Linked DNA regions of Homo sapiens: region 1 is linked to region 2. Evidence: fine-mapped expression QTL. Tissue or cell type: monocytes. Region 2 holds a variant in brackets; the other region holds the start of a gene. All regions are shown on one strand. Distances are between the middles of the regions.

Region 1 (8,000 bases), 42 kb before region 2:
TTTATTTGAGCTTTACAACTCTATTGGTAATGTTGAAAACTCTATCAAATTCCTTTTGTAACAGAGCTGTAAGATTTCAGGTCATTTCAAGTGTTGTCCTGCTGAAACTCACCTTCAAAACTGTTTAAATTATGGCACTTATTAACCAGGGCCGTGGAAGAAGCCAGGCAGGTGAGAGGTGCTGAAGCTTAAACTTCATGAACTTTGGGGTAAACCTGAACTTTGGACCCGACACAGTTAGGTGGCCCAGAAGAGGGGAGACTGAGATGTGGAAAGAGTAATGAGAAGTTCAACAATTTACGGAGAAAGGGGTGATTTGCTGCTTGTTATTTCTTACAATAGGAAAAGCTGTAACTCCAGGATTACTCAAAACAACTGTCACAATCTGTACAAGAAAAAGTAAACTTATTAGCCGGGCATGGTCCCCGCGCGGGGTCCCAGCTCCTCAGGAGGCTGAGGAAAGATTGCTCGAGCCCAGGAGGTCAAGGCTGCAGTGAGCCATGACCGTGCCACTGCACTCCAGCCTGGGCAATACAGTAAGACCCTATCTCTAAAAAAAAGAGCCACGTGCAGTGGCTCACGCCTGTAATCCCAGCACTTTGGGAGGCCAAGGCAGGTGGATCACCTTAGGTCAGGAGTTCCAGACCAGCCTGACCAACATGGAGAAACCCCGCGTCTACTAAAAATACAAAATTAGCCCGGTGTGGTGGCATATGCCTGTAATCCCAGCTACCTGGGAGGCTGAGGCGGGAGAATCACTTGAACCCAGGAGGCAGAGGTTGTGGTGAGCCGAGATCGCACCTTTGCACTCCAGCCTGGGCAACAAGAGTGAAACGCCGTCTCCAAAAATAAAATAAAATAAAATACAAAAGAAAAGAAAAAGAAAACTCCAGTAGCTGTTGGTGGATGCTATGCGCAAGTACCGACAATGCACCGTGTGATAGCAGTATATTGCTCTGGGCTGGGAACAAAGGTGACAGCCTAATATTTTGGGTAGGGAACAGCAAAGTGCTCTAATAATGAGGAAGGGAGGGCTGAGTTTGGTTTGGTCTGCAGAACAGGCATGGATTCAGGTAGTAACGTGAATGTTCACCCACGTTCTGTAATTTAGTGGCTACTGAATTTGCTTGCCTGGGAAGTGGTTCTGGGTGGTCTAAGGGTGGAGGACATGACTTCACACACACAGGATAGACCAAGGGTGGTTCCTGAGAATTGAAGTGAAAATCTCAGATGCCATCTCCACGTAAAGGGGAAATCATGGGATTTTTTTTCTACCAGGTTGTAATTCACCAGATGACATAAAACTATATTAATTTTTACCAGATTCTCTTTGAGGCCAGGAACCATGTTTTACAAATCTTGAAAACTAGCAATGTGATCACTCGGCACGTAGTAGATGCTCAGTAAAGATTTCATTTTTTCATTCTTTGACTGGCATACACTAGATGGTAGAAAATAGATTACTGCCTGGTGTGGGGTGTGGGCTGATGACCTGACATGGAATAGAATGTTTTCTCTCTTTCTTTCTTTCTTTTTTTGTAGACAGGGTCTCGCTATGTTGTTCAGGCTGCCCTCAAACTCCTGGACTGAAACGATCCTCTCATCTCAGCCTCCAAAAGTGCTGGCATTACAGGTATGAGTCACTGTGCCCCACTAAGATGAGTGTTTTCTATTGTTTAATTAATTTATGTTTTGAGACAGAGTTTCACTCTGTTGCCCAGGCTGGAGTGCAGTGGCACGATTTCAGCTCACTGCAACCTCTGCCTCCCAGGGTTCAAGCAATTCTCCTGTCTCAGCCTCCCGAGTAGCTGGGACTGCAGGCCTGCACCACCACACCTGGCTAAGTTTTGTATTTTCAGTAGAGAAGGGGTTTCACTATGTTGGCCAGGCTGGTCTCGAACTCCTGACCTCAGGTGATCCGCCTGCCTCGGCCTCCCAAAGTGCTGGGATTACAGGTGTGAGCCACTGCGCCCAGCCTATTTATTTATTTACTTATTTATTTACTTTATATATTTTTTGGAGACAGAGTGTGGCTCTGTTGCCCAGGCTGGAGTGCAGTGGTGCAATCTCTGCTCACTGCAACTTCTGCCTCCCGGGTTCAAGCGATTCTCGTGCCTCAGCCTCCCTAGTAGCTGGGACTACAGGTGTGTGCCATGATGCCCAGCTGATTTTTGTATTTTTAGTAGAGAGGGGTTTCACCATGTTGGCTAGGCTGGTCTCGAACTCTTGGGCTCAAGTGATCCACCCGCCTCGGCCTCCCAAAATGCTGAGATTACAGACCTGAGCTACTGTCCCCAGCCAGAAGACATAACTTTTAGAGGCTACAGGATCTGGGTACAGAGTGAGAGTGGCAAAAGGCAGGGCAGGGGTTTGGGAGAGGGTTGCAGAGAACCCCGAGGGAGAAGCTGAATAAGAGAAGGGGAGACTGGGCCTGCATCGGGGAGGGAGGAGGGAATTCCCAGCTCCAGCCTGGTCTGCCTGGCTCCAGTGAAGCCGGCTGTTTCCTGCCCTCGGTGACCGGCCCACCCCCCCCAACCCGGGCGCAGGACCCAGGCAGAACAGCAAGGAAGGGCAGGGGTGTGGGGAACACCTCTTGCAGCAGGAAGATAAGTAAGCCGGGACAAGAGGTTATCACAGGCCCGGCTGTCCTTTCTGGGACGTAAGGGCGCTTGGCAGCCCCCCAAGCATCCTGGACTCCAACGTCTCTCTTGCTGGGCTCCAACGTCTCTCTTGCTGGGCTCCTCAAGATTCTGTCCTCCGGCTGGGCGCGGTGGCTAACGTCTGTAATCCCAGCACTTTGGGAGGCCAAGGTGGGTGGATCACTTTAGGTCAGGAGTTCGAGACCAGCCTGGCCAACATGGCGAAACCCTGTCTCTACTAAAAATACGAAAACTAGCCGGGGTTGGTGCCCTGTGCCTGTAATCCCAGCTACTCGGGAGGCTGAGGCAGGAGAATCGCTTGAACCTGGGAGGCGGAGGTTGCAGTGAGCCCAGATCACGCCACTGCACTCCAGCCTGGGAAATAGAGGGAGACTCTGTCTCAAAAAAAAAAAAAAAATCTGTCCCCGCTAATTACTGTGGGAGTCTAAGTCCTTTCCTTCTGCCCCTTGGAGGGGCTGACTCCTGGAGCAGCACCCCCTCCAATCCATCTATCCAGTAACCCATACTGTTAAGTTCCCTGAAGTAGAAGGGGGTTGGTGGGAGGAGCACGGCTGTGCTGGACCCTCCCCGCTAACTGATGGGAGGGTGAGGGGAGTTGGCAGTGAGAGGAAGGGCCCCTCCCAGCCATCCCGAGGGCCCCCAGGAGCCAGACAGGAAACAGCTCAGGAAAGACAGCAGCCGCAGCCGCAGCCCCAGCCTCAGGGGTCATGGCTGCGGGCGGCGGGGAAGCCCCCCCAAAACACGAGAGTGAGAGTGAGAAGGGCGATTTGGAGATCTAGCCGGACCCCTCACCCTCTCGGACACACCCACCTTTTTTTTTTTTTTTTTTTTTTTTGAGATTTCGTCTCACTCTGTAGCCCAGGCTGGAGTGCAGTGGCGCGATCTCAGCTCCCAGCTCACTGCAACCTCCGCCTCCTAGGTCCCGGTTCAAGCAATTCTCCTGCCTCAGCCTCCCGAGTAGCTAGGATTACAGGCGCGCGCCACCATGCCCAGCTAATTTTTGTATTTTTAGTAGAGACGGGGTTTCATCATGTTGGCCAGGCTGGTCTTGAACTCCTGACCTCAAATGATCCGCCTGCCTCTGCCTCCCAAAATGCTGGGACTACAGGCGTGAGCCACCGCGCCCGCCACACCCACCTTTTCTTTACCGTTGTTTCCTCGATTTTTCTCTACTCCCTAGCGCAGCTTAGTGCGCGCCTCCTCTGGACATTTTTCAGGGCTTGGTTGCGCGCACAGTAGGTCCCCAACACTGAATGTTTATGGGGTGACTGTGTGAACGTTCGCTGCAAGGCTATCCAAACTGGGATTGCTCCTTGAGGCCCCCTGGGCGGCCGTCAATTCTCCAAAGCTTCTACTCCCTTTTCCTTCCTTTTCCCCCAAAACGCAGTCCCTGCGCCCACTAGAGGGTGGTGGGCGCATCCAAGAGCGGCATCTAGAGTCCGCAGCAAGGTCAGAGCGGGCTTTGTGTGCGCGGTGAACATTTACGTGCACGCCTGGGCGGCCCTCCGTGTTGCTGCTGGGTGTGTGTTTTCTCTGCTCCCTGGTGCCAGCCGGGTTCGGGCCTGTCCCGGGGGTCCCTGGGCCCCAGCCCCGACATGCTCGGTCCTGGACAGCGCGCACCGCCACGGCGCACATCTGGGCGGTCCCGGGGTTCCTCACCCGCCGCCCCTCCCCCTTCTCCAAACTTTCTCTCAACTTCCCGACCTGCTCCACTCGGTGCCCCTCTCCGCTTCCCTCATGAATTATTCAGTAGCGTGAGCTCCAATCAGCGCGCCCGGGGCTCACTCGCGGAGCCCCCGCGTTGGGAGAGCTGCCCCCGCCCCCCGCGCGCCCCTCCCTCCCGGGCCCGGCGCCGCCCGGCCCAGTTCCAGCGCAGCTCAGCCCCTGCCCGGCCCGGCCCGCCCGGCTCCGCGCCGCAGTCTCCCTCCCTCCCGCTCCGTCCCCGCTCGGGCTCCCACCATCCCCGCCCGCGAGGAGAGCACTCGGCCCGGCGGCGCGAGCAGAGCCACTCCAGGGAGGGGGGGAGACCGCGAGCGGCCGGCTCAGCCCCCGCCACCCGGGGCGGGACCCCGAGGCCCCGGAGGGACCCCAACTCCAGCCACGTCTTGCTGCGCGCCCGCCCGGCGCGGCCACTGCCAGCACGCTCCGGGCCCGCCGCCCGCGCGCGCGGCACAGACGCGGGGCCACACTTGGCGCCGCCGCCCGGTGCCCCGCACGCTCGCATGGGCCCGCGCTGAGGGCCCCGACGAGGAGTCCCGCGCGGAGTATCGGCGTCCACCCGCCCAGGGAGAGTCAGACCTGGGGGGGCGAGGGCCCCCCAAACTCAGTTCGGATCCTACCCGAGTGAGGCGGCGCCATGGAGCTCCGGGTGCTGCTCTGCTGGGCTTCGTTGGCCGCAGCTTTGGAAGGTGAGTTTCCTTGCGGGGGGGGGCGCACCCCGTCACTCCTGGGACCTCCCCCCCAACATCTGGGCCTCGGAGTGGAGGGGCCGGCCTCTGACTACCCCTACCCGGGCACTGCAGTCCCAAACACTTCGGACCGATAGTGCTGGAACGGGAGGGGGGCGGGGAAGAGGCGCCCGACGGGTAGTGGAGTTTTCTTTTGTTTGGGAAAGAGATGGAGTCTGGCTACGACCCGGGACATTCCCCTGCCCGGGCTCCCCGAACTCTCACTGCTGATTACATACGCCCCTGGCTGCCTTTCCTTTCCTCCCTACCCCACTATTCAAAACTATCTGCAAAGTTTCTGTCCCAGTCCCACCTCCCGCCGTACATGAGGGAAGGTTTCTGGAGAAGCAACAGCAGACAAGGCACAACTTTTCGTGCTAGGCCCTAAAACGACCCCCAGCGCCAATTCCTTAGCGATCACACCTTGATCCTCCAGTTCCACACTCCTGCAACAGGATGGCCTCCTTTGCATTCACACAGCAAACCCCCAAACCGCTCTCCCGCCCACTGCTCCTGCCCCTGGTATAGGGTGGCTCCTTGGTTTCTACAGGCTGCACCCCATCCCTTTAAATGCGGTCTAGACCCCGGCCCCAGGTGAGTCCCGGGCTTCCCTTGAGACCTAGGAGCGGGTAGAAACTGACCTACACAGCCCCCAGGTAGAAACTGACCTACACAGCCCCCACATCGCCCTAACTAACCCAGTCTATCTCCCACCTCCTGGTCTCTCCAAGCATTTCTTTGGCCATGGATCGCTGTCCCTCCTGGTCCCCTAAAGGGGGAGCCAAGAGCCCTAGAAACTCTCCTGTGTCCCTAATGTCCTTTCAGTGAGCTGCCAACACCCCCCTTTCTCTGTCTGGTATGAAAGTGGTTATGGGGCGGTAGGCTATGAGGGACTCCCAAAGGGAAGGATTCAGCGGCGTTAGAAAAACCCTCTCCCCCTGGCTGGGCAGGACTGCCCTGGGCTGGGGATCAAAGGCTAGGTGTGGGGTTGGGAGTGAGGGGAGGCTTGCCCAGCTCAGAGAACGGAGAAGGGGGAACAAAAACCATGAACGAGGGGAAGAGGAAGGCCAAAGGGGTGGAAAAACCACGAGGACGAGGTGTGGTGAGAAGGAAAGACGCAAAGAGGAAATGGTGATTGTGACACCTATTACCTGAGTGTTTCCAAGCACCAGGCCTGTGCTGAGCGCCTTACAAATATTAATTTCACCCATCCAGCAACGCTAAGGGTGGTGCTATTATTGCCCCCATTTTTCAGATGAGGAGGCTGGGGCTTAGTTAAGGTTAAGTAGTTTATCCAAGGCCCTGTGCCGCGAGGAACAGCGAGAAGTGGAGGCCGAAAGCGAAGGAGAGATAGTGACTGTCAGAAAGAGAAACGGAGGTGGACAGAGAGTGGAGGAGAGATAGGTGAGAGACATGCGAACTGACAGATCAAAGCGTGGCTGCAGCTGAGCTGGGACGCAGAAAGGGAGCCTGCGCTTGCTCTGGGCTGCGGACAGCCCGAGGCAGAGACAGTGTGTAAATTGGAGACAGGAAAACACTATCCCGGCTGGAACAATGGAGGGTGGAGACGGCAGCCTCTATCCACCCCCTTCCCAGAACCCGGGCATCCTGTCCCCAGTGAGCAGGGCTGTCTCTTGCCACCCATGGGGACCTTGCGCCTCTCACCTCAGGCTGGCTGGCTTCCCATCTGACCCCTAGCTGGAGGACATCATTTGGTCCCCAGGAAGAGGCTGCCTCACCCACCCTCTTTCTCTTCTCTCCTGCAGCTCCCATGGGGTGGGAGCCAGGTGTTCTGGCTCCCCTCTCCACCCTTCCCAGCGCCCAATGCCCCCCACATTGCCGGCCCCCGAGGGGATTCCTGTACCCTCCCTCCTCCACTCTCCACTGCCAGGGGCTGTGCAGTTTTTCCTAATCCCCCCCCTTCCTCCAGTGCCTGTCCCCTCCCCCGATGATCCGAGCCAAGCCAGGTGTGTTCACCCCTCCCATTCATACCGCCCCCCAGAATCTCCTCCCCTCTGCCTTCCCATAACCAAATCCAGATGTGAGGCCTCGGCGGGAGCCTGGGAACCCTAGCATCCCGACCTCCAGTGCTTCCTGATCAGGGCACTCGTGGGGAGGGAGGTACTGGGATGGGGGCCAGGGCTATGCCCCAGGCACGGAGCGCTCCCTTCAAGGAGGGAAGGACGGGGTGTTTGGTCTGAAAGCAGAGAGGGGTCTTGGACAGGGAATGAAATTGTGGGGTAGAGAGGCTGATTCTGGGACTTAGGGGAGGAAACGTGGAGGCTGAGACAAGAGGTTCCCCTCCCACACCAGCAGCCTCTGCTCGTGGGGGTCAGGACCAGGGCGCAGCTCTCATTTTAACCCTTTCTGAGCTGCCGCCCCTTCTCCCCGTACATTTTGATCTCCCTCCCTCCTCCAGGGAGGCCTAGATCTGGGGTATCCCAAGGGAGCCCCATGCCTACCAGATGTTGGGGGTGGGGTTGGCACTTAGCAGAAGAGGCCAGAAATCAGGCGGGTGCAGAGGGCAGGGCTTGCTCCCCTCTTGGCCCCCCAACTCCTCTAGCTCAGAGCTAAGAGGATCCACCTGCCTCGGTTCCCAGGGATCTGGTCTTCCTGACCTCCCTCCCCCACCCCAGGCACTGACTCTGTCTCTCTGTCTGTCTCAGAGACCCTGCTGAACACAAAATTGGAAACTGCTGATCTGAAGTGGGTGACATTCCCTCAGGTGGACGGGCAGGTGAGAGCTGCACCCAGGAGCTGGAGCTCTGGAGGGAAACTGAGGGAGGAGAGGGCGCCTGTGCCGCCTGCTTTCTGTGTGCCACTCCTCTCCCCTGTCCCCCCAGATGACAGCAGCCCCAGCAGTGTCGTCTGAGCCCTTCTCAGAGGCGCCCTC
Region 2 (8,000 bases):
AGTAGCTGGGATTACAGGTGTGCACCACCACATCCAGCTAATTTTTTATTTTTATTTTTTATAGAGATGGGATCTTGCTATGTTGCCCAGGCTGGTCTCGAATGCCTGGCCTCAAGCGATCCTCCCGTCTCAGCCTCTCCAGTTCCAGAAGCTGGGATTACAGGCATGCACCATCACACCTGTCTCATTTAAAAAAAAAAAATTTTTTTTGAGATGGAGTTTTGCTCTTGTCACCCAGGCTGGAGTGCAGTGGCACGATCTCAGCTCACTGCAACCTCCGCCTCCCACGTTCAAGCGATTCTCCTGCCTCAGCATCCCAAGTAGCTGGGATTACAGGCGCCCACCACCACACCCAGCTAATTTTTGTATTTTTAGTAGAGATGGGGTTTCGCCATGTTTGCCAGGCTGGTCTTGAACTCCTGACCTTAGGTGATCCACCTGCCTCAGCCTCCCAAAGTGCTGGGATTACAGGCGTGAGCCACTGTGCACGGCCTTTAAAATTTTTTTTGTAGAGACGGGGGTCTCACTATGTTCCCCAGGCTGGTCTTGAGCTTCTGACCTCAAGCGATCCTCCCACCTCAGCTTCCCGGAGCGCTGGGATTTCTGGCCAGTGCCACAGCACCCAGCCAAGACTCTGCCCTCTGCTCTCCACCTGGTCTCACCTCACCTCCTCCTGGTCCTCCTCTGAAGCTGGGTGCCCCACTACCGGGCCGAGTCTGCTCACCAGGATTTGCCTGTCTTAAATAGGATTTTCCCTCCCACTTCCCAGAAATGGCCCTTTTGCTCTTCTTTCCCCTCTCTCCATTACCTGCATTTTTCCTTCCACCAAAGCTGACGACCAGCTCAAAGTCGGTGACCAGGTAGAGCCGTTGGCCCCACAGGGTGACCCGCAGGTGTTCATTTGGCCTGTAGGGGACGGCCATCTTCTGGTTGTTGACCTAAAGAGGGAAGACAGGAGCCACAGACAGGGCTGAATCCTCCTGACCTGCTGCCATTTCCTGGCTGGGCTTCACTTTTCCCAGTCATCTCCATATGTCTCCGTGCAGAGAGTGGAATAAGATACCCCAATGGGCTTTGCTATTCACGTGGCAGAAACCTCTGTGAGGTCCGCCCCCTTCCCAGCCCAAGTCCTTCCTTGCAAAAAATTGGCTCAGTGAGGCCGGGCACAGTGGCTCACACCTGTAATTCTAGCACTTTGGGAGGCCGAGTCGGGCGGATCACTTGAGGTCAGGAGTTCCAGACCAGCCTGGCCAACATGGGGAAACCACGTCTCTACTAAAAATACAAAAATTAGCCAGACATGGTGGTGCACACCTGTAGTCCCAGCTACTAGGGAGGTTGAGGCAGGATAATCACTTGAACCTGGGAGGTGGAGGTTGCAGTGAGCCTAGATGGTGCCACTGCACTCCAGCCTGGGCGACAGAGTGAAACTCTGCCTCAAAAAATAAAAATACATTGGTGTAGTGGATGCCATTGGTTCTTCAGCCCAGGATTGACCTTCACACACCTCACGCTCTGTCCTCCTCCTCTCTTCCTCTTGTTTCTTGCCAGCCTCTGCTGCCTCCCCACATGAAGTGAGCTTGTTGCTGAATTTGTTTTTGATTTTGAGACAGTTTCTCTCTGTCACCCAGGCTAAAGTGCAGTGGCAAGATCTTGGCTCACTGCAGCCTCAAACTCCTGGGCTCAAGTGATCCTCCAGCCTAAGCCTGCCCAATAGCTGGAACTACAGGTGTGCGCCCCCATATCCAGCTCATTTTAAATTTTTTGCAGAGATGTTGCGTCTTGCTATGTTGCCCAGGCTGGTCTTGAACTCCTGGGCTCAAGTGATCCTCCCGTCTTAGCCTCCTGAGTAGCTGAGATTACAGGCGTGAACCACTGCGTCCTGCTGACTCTGATTTTACAACCAGCCCACCCCTGCCACAAACATCCCAGGGAACAGGGATCCCTGACTTCTACTCCAGGTGGCCTACCTGGTCCAGCTGCCTCCCCACACCCACCAGGCCCTGGCCCAGCTCTTACCACAAGCTCCAGACCAGCTTGGAGCTGCACTTTATAGCCGTAGACGGTGGTAATCACTTCCTGCAAGAAGATGGAGCTCCTGGGCGGATCCATCTTGTTGCGTCCTTCCACGAGGAGGGGCTCCACCCCCTCAGGCAGTACGTCCACAGTCTTGATCAGAACATAGGTCATGCGGCCTTGCAAGCGGTAGCTGAAGCCGTCAAATGTGAGGTAACGGGGGTCGCCATAGACTGAGCATTGTTCAGACTCTGCCAAGAAGTCAGACAGTGAGAAGGGGCCGGGCGCAGTGGCTCACGCCTGTAATCCCAGGACTTTGGGAGGCCAAGGCGGGTGGATGACCTGAGGTCAGGAGTTTGAGACCAGCCTGGCCAACATGGTGAAACCCTGTCTCTACTAAAAATACAAAAATTAGCCAGGTGTGGTGGTGCGTGCCTGTAATCCCAGCTACTTGGTAGGCTGAGGCAAGAGAATTGCTTGAACCCGGGAGGCAGAGGTTGTAGTGAGCGCCGAGATCGCGCCACTGCACTCCAGCCTGGGAGACAGAGTAAGACACCATCTCAAAAAAACAAAAAACAAAACAAAAGACTGAGAAGGGACCCTGCCCAGGTGTGACAGTCCCCAGAGTCCCTCCCCCACGGTGGCATCCCCTGTGGCCACCCTCTTAGGCTCAGGCTCCCTGGATCCTTTCTTTTCTTTTTTTAATTTTCTTTTTCTTTTTTTGAGACAGGGTCTTATTCTGTCACCCAGACTGGAGTACAAGTGGTACGATCATAGCTCACTGCAGCCTCCACCTCCTGGTCTCGAGTGATCCTCCTGAGTAGCTGGGACTTTAGGTGCGCACCACCACCCCTAGCTAATTTTTTTCTTTTTTTTTTAGAAATGGCCACACTACATTGCCCAGGCTGGTCTTGAACTCCTGGCCTCAAGAAATCCTCCCACCTTGGCCTCCCAAAGTCCAAAGTGCTGAGATTACAGGCATAAGCCACCAAGCCCGGTACCTAGACTTTTTTTTTTCAATACCTACTGACATTCAATTAGAGGCCCTTTATTATTATTTTTATTTTTTTATTTTTTTGAGACAAGATCTCACTCTGTGTCCCAGGCTGGAGTGCAGTGGTACAATCATAGCTCACTGCAGCCTCAAACTCCTGAGCTCAAGCAATTCTCCTGCGTCAGTCTCCTGAGTAGCTGGGACTACAGGCACAAGCCACTACACCTAACTAATTTTTTAAAATTTTAAAATTTTTTGTAGGGACAGGGTCTTCCTATGTTGGCCAGGTTGGTGTTAAATTCCTGGGCTGAAGTGATTCTTCCACCTCTGCCTCCCAAGTACTGGGATTACAGGCATGAACCACCATGCCCAGCCTCCCTGGATCCTTGATCTTCAATTTTCTCTATCTCCTGGCCTGATTAAAAACCTTAGAGGGGGCGGGCACAGTGGCTCATGCCTGTAATCCCAACACTTTAGGAGGCTGAGGCAGGAGGAACACATGAGCCCATGAGTTCAAGCCCATCTTGGGCAACATAGCAAGACCCCATCTCTAGAAAAAAAATAGCAAAATTGGCTGGGTGTGGTGGTCCATGCCTGTAGTCCCAGCTACTTGGGAGGCTGAGATGTGAGGATCACATGATTGCAGGCATTTGAGGTTGCAGCTAGCTATATGATGGTGCCAGTGCACTCCAGCCTGGGCAACAGAGCAAGACCCTATCTCAAAAAACAAACAA[ACAAG/G]AAAAGAAAAACTTTGGAGGATCTCCTTGACCAGTCCCCTCTTTTTGCCCTGCAGGTGGAGGGTCCCAGAGGGGATCAGGACCTGGCACATGGCCACAGAGTTAGCAAGAGCTAAACTGGAGGCCAGGCCTCCTGATCCAGTCGCCCGCCCCAACCCCTGACTGTGCTGGGGTTCAGGCTAAGCCCCTTCCCACCCTGCCTCTTCCTCCACCTCCGCCCTGGCCACAGGTGCTCCCCTCTCCAACCTCCCCGGTCGCTCCCCTTACTGTCTGAGACACAATTGCTGTTGCTGTTGTCGGAAGTGAGCTGGCAGTGGGACCCAGAGGGGCATCGGAAGTCCCCGCACTGAATGGCTCCTCCCGTGCAGACACACTTCTCCGTGCAACCGCTGGAGACCCAGCTCTTGCCCAGCTGTAGAAGTTACAGGAAGAGAAAGAGAGTGAGGAGGGGGCTGGGCGCGGCGGCTCACGCCTGTAATCCCAACACTTTGGGAGGCCGAGACGGGTGGATCACCTGAGGTCAGGAGTTTGTGACGAGCCCAGCCAACATGGTGAAACCCTGTCTCTACTAAAAATACAAAAATTAGCCAGGTGTGGTAGCACACACTTGTAATCCCAGCTACTCAAGAGGCTGAGGCAGGAGAATTGCTTGAACCCAGGAGGCAGAGGTTGCAGTGAGCCAAGATCGCACCACTGCATTCCAGCCTGGGCAACAGAGCGAGACTCTGTCTCAAGAAAAAAAAAAAAAAGAGTGAAGAGGGGAGGGCCAGTTCTCCTTCCTCTTGCCCCAGCAGCCTGGCCCACCATCTAAATGGCTTAATTGATGCTGGCCAGAGGCAGCCACAGTGTCATTTGGTCATCCAAAAGACAACTGTGCAGGCCAAGTGTGGTGGCTCACACCTGTAATCTTAGTACTTTGGGAGGCCAAGGCGGGCAGATCACTTGAGGTCAGGAGTTCGAGACCAGCCTGGCCAACATGGTGAAACCCAATCTCTACTAAAAATTCAAAAATTAGCAGGCTGTGGTGGCGCTTGCCTGTAATCCCAGCTACACAGGAGACTGAGGCAGGAGAATGGCTTGAACCCAGGAGGCAGAGATTGCAGTGCGCAGAGATTATGCCACTGCACTCTAGCCTGCTGGATAATAGAGGGAGACTCCGTCTCAAAAAAAAAAAAAAAAAAAAAAGGCACTGTGTTTGTGCTTGGTGACTTACATATGTTGTGCAGGAGGTACTACTGAACCCATTTTACAGATGAGGAAACGGATATAACAGAGGTCATCTGACTCATCAGTGGCACCATCAGGATTCAATCCTAGGTTAGGCTGAAATGAGCCCATGGTCTTTCCACTATACCATGCCATGTGCTGCTTGTTTGGATTCCTCAGATCCAAAACCCAAACCATGTGCCATCAGCCCAGACCTGGCTGGAGATCAATGTGCCACTCACACCAGCCTTCACACCCCCGGGCCAGCTGTAAGTCATGGGTATCCCAGGCTGAGAGAGGCAGAGAAAAGGAGAAAGCACTGCCCTCAAGCTGTGTTGCCTCCAGTCCCATTTCCCATGCCCACTCACAGGGATGGAGCCACCATGGGCATCCTTGCAGCCACACTGACTTCTGGGGACACACTTGTCTTCACTCAGCACATAGCCGGGCTGACAAATGCAGCCCTCAGCGCAGGCAGAGGGGACTTTGGCGCCCTCACACCGGCCATCCAGGTCCCAGCAGGAGGGTGAGCAGGAGGGAAGGCAGTTGGTGTAGCTGCTGTAGGCAGGGCATTCCAGAGCTGTGGGTGAAGGAGACAGTGGGTCAGTGGAGAGGGTCACAGGGGGCCAAGGTGGGCAGGGGCTGTACAAACCAAGCTATGGGTGGATGACCAACAAGGCTTGGGGAGCTTTTTTTGTTCTTTTGTTATTCATTCAGCAAACATTTACTGAGTATGGGTTATGTGCCAGGCTTTGGGGGAAAGCAAGGAAAAAGCGGCTGGGCATGGTGGCTCACGCCTGTAATCCCAGCACTTTGGGAGGCTGAGGTGGGTGGATCACAAGGTCAGGAGATCGAGACCATCCTGGCCATCATGGTGAAACCCCATCTCTACTAAAAATACAACAATTAGCCAAGCGTGGTGGTGGGCGCCTGTAGTCCCAGCTACTCAGGAGGCTGAGGCAGGAGAATCACTTGAACCTGGGAGGCAGAGGTTGCATTGAGCCAAGATCACACCACTGCACTCCAGCCTGGGCAACAGAGTGAGACTGTCTCAAAAAAAAAAAAAAAAAAAGGAACAAGAATGGCTCTCCCAAGCCAGCATGAAGGACGGTGGTCAAACAGCAACGGCAGCAGGACCTTGATGTGTATGATCAGTAGGTGTGTTGACAGCAAGAGCATACAAGGCATGATGGAGGCACAGAGCAGGGAGGTATTAATTCTGTTGGGGGAGTTAAAGAAAGGCCCTTAAGCAAAAATAGTGTGAACAAATGGAAATGCATACCATGTTCATGGATAAGAAGGTTCAGCAACATGGTGATGTTAGTTCTGCCTCAGTGAATGTACACATTTAATGTGATCTCAATAAAATATACATATATATATATGTATATATATATGTGTGTATATATATATATGTGTATATATATATATATATATATTTTTTTTTTTTTTTTTTTTTTTTTTTTTTTGCGGGGGACGGGCAGGGACGGAGTCTCTCTCTGACACCCAGGAATGATCTTGGCTCACTGCAGCCTCTGCCTCCCTGGTTCCAGAGATTCTCCTACTTCAGCCTCCCAGGTAGCTGGGATTACAGGCATGTGCCACCATGCCTGGCTAATTTTTGTATTTTTAGTAGAGATGGGGTTTCACCATGTTGGCCAGGCTGGTCTCAAACTCCTGACCTCAGGTGATCCTCCCACCTTGGCCTCCCAAAGTGCTAGGATTACAGGCATGAGCCACCACACCCAGCCACCAAAAGTATTTTATATATGTGTGTGCTTTTAATAGGACAAGATGATTTCAAAGTTGAGCTGAAGACATAAGCAAACCAGAAAAGCCAGGAACTCCCTAAAAAAAAGAGCCATCAGTAGTGAATGGCCCTCCATAAGTCGTTTATTTTGTTTTATTTTATTTATTCATTTATTTATTTTTTTGAGATAGAGTTTCGCTCTTTCCGCCCTGGCTGGAGTGCAATGGCACAATCTCAGCTCACTGCAACCTCCACCTCCCAGGTTCAAGCAATTCTCCTTTCTCAGCCTCCTGAGTAGCTGGGATTACAGGCACATACTAGCACGCCCAGCTATTTTTTGTATTTTTAGTAGAGATGGGGTTTTGCCATGTTGGCCAGGCTGGTCTCAAACTCCTGACCTCAGGTGATCCGCCCACCTCGGCCTCCCAAAGTGCTGGGATTACAGGCGTAAGCCACAGCGCCCAGCCCAAAGCTCATTTTAAATTTTCAGTGATTACGACTTTGTGTTACTGCTACATGCAAATACAGATGGACCGACAGAACAGAGGAGAAAGCTCAGATATGGATCCAAATATATATGGGAATTTAGTATATGATAAATTGTGGTATCTCAGTCCCTGCGCAAAGACAGACTAGTCATTTAATAATATTGGAACAGCTGGCTAGCCTTCTGGAGAAAAACAAAAACAAAGTTGATTCATACCTCATTTTACACATCAGGATAAATCTTCATGGGTCAAAAACTTAAATACACACACACACACACACACAAAAAAAACCCACTTAAATATAAAAAAATGAAACCATAAAAGTTCTAGAGCAGGCCGGACACGGTGGCTCACGCCTGTAACCCCAGCACTTGGGGAGGACGAGGCGGGCAGATCACTTGAGGCCAGGAGTTTGAGACCAGCCTGGCCAACATGGTGAAACCCCATCTCTACTAAAAATACAAAAAAATTATCCAGGCATGGTGGTGGGTGCCTGTAATCCCAGCTACTCGGAAGGCTGAGGCAGGAGAATCGCTTGAACCCAGGAGGCAGAGGTTGCAGTGATCCGGGATCGTGCCACTGCAGCCTGGGCCACAGAGTGAGACTCTGTCTCAAACAAACAAAATTTCTAGAGCAAAGAATCAGCAAACTCTTTTGTAGCTTCTGTGGGGCTAGCATTTATAGCTATTGCTCAAGATGCAGAAGACATAAAACAAGATTAATATATTTGACCCCATAAAAATTTTTGTCCTGCATGGCAAAAAAAAAAAAAGTCAAAAGATGAAAACAAAAAGGACTGGAAAACTTTG

What was found. PIP is the estimated chance that this variant, and not a neighbour inherited with it, causes the effect.
Region 1: EPHB4 starts here. The variant in region 2 is fine-mapped to the expression of EPHB4 in monocytes (TOPMed, PIP above 0.99).

The regions. Positions count from the first base shown.
Region 1 is chr7:100,824,047-100,832,046 of GRCh38, reverse strand. It overlaps EPHB4 (EPH receptor B4), which reads left to right and starts at 4,524. Exons shown (of 17, transcript NM_004444.5): 1 at 4,524-5,068; 2 at 7,774-7,844. The coding sequence starts at 5,017. It also overlaps a transcript of SLC12A9 not described here. RefSeq lists enhancers at 2,133-2,928, 3,725-4,520.
Region 2 is chr7:100,782,156-100,790,155 of GRCh38, reverse strand. It overlaps ZAN (zonadhesin), which reads right to left. Exons shown (of 48, transcript NM_003386.3): 36 at 5,322-5,533; 37 at 4,015-4,159; 38 at 2,020-2,267; 39 at 809-938. Among named protein-coding and RNA genes, the nearest start is that of EPHB4, 41 kb to the left of the region's middle. RefSeq lists an enhancer at 4,932-5,431. The variant ACAAG/G (reference allele first, on the strand shown) is at 3,745.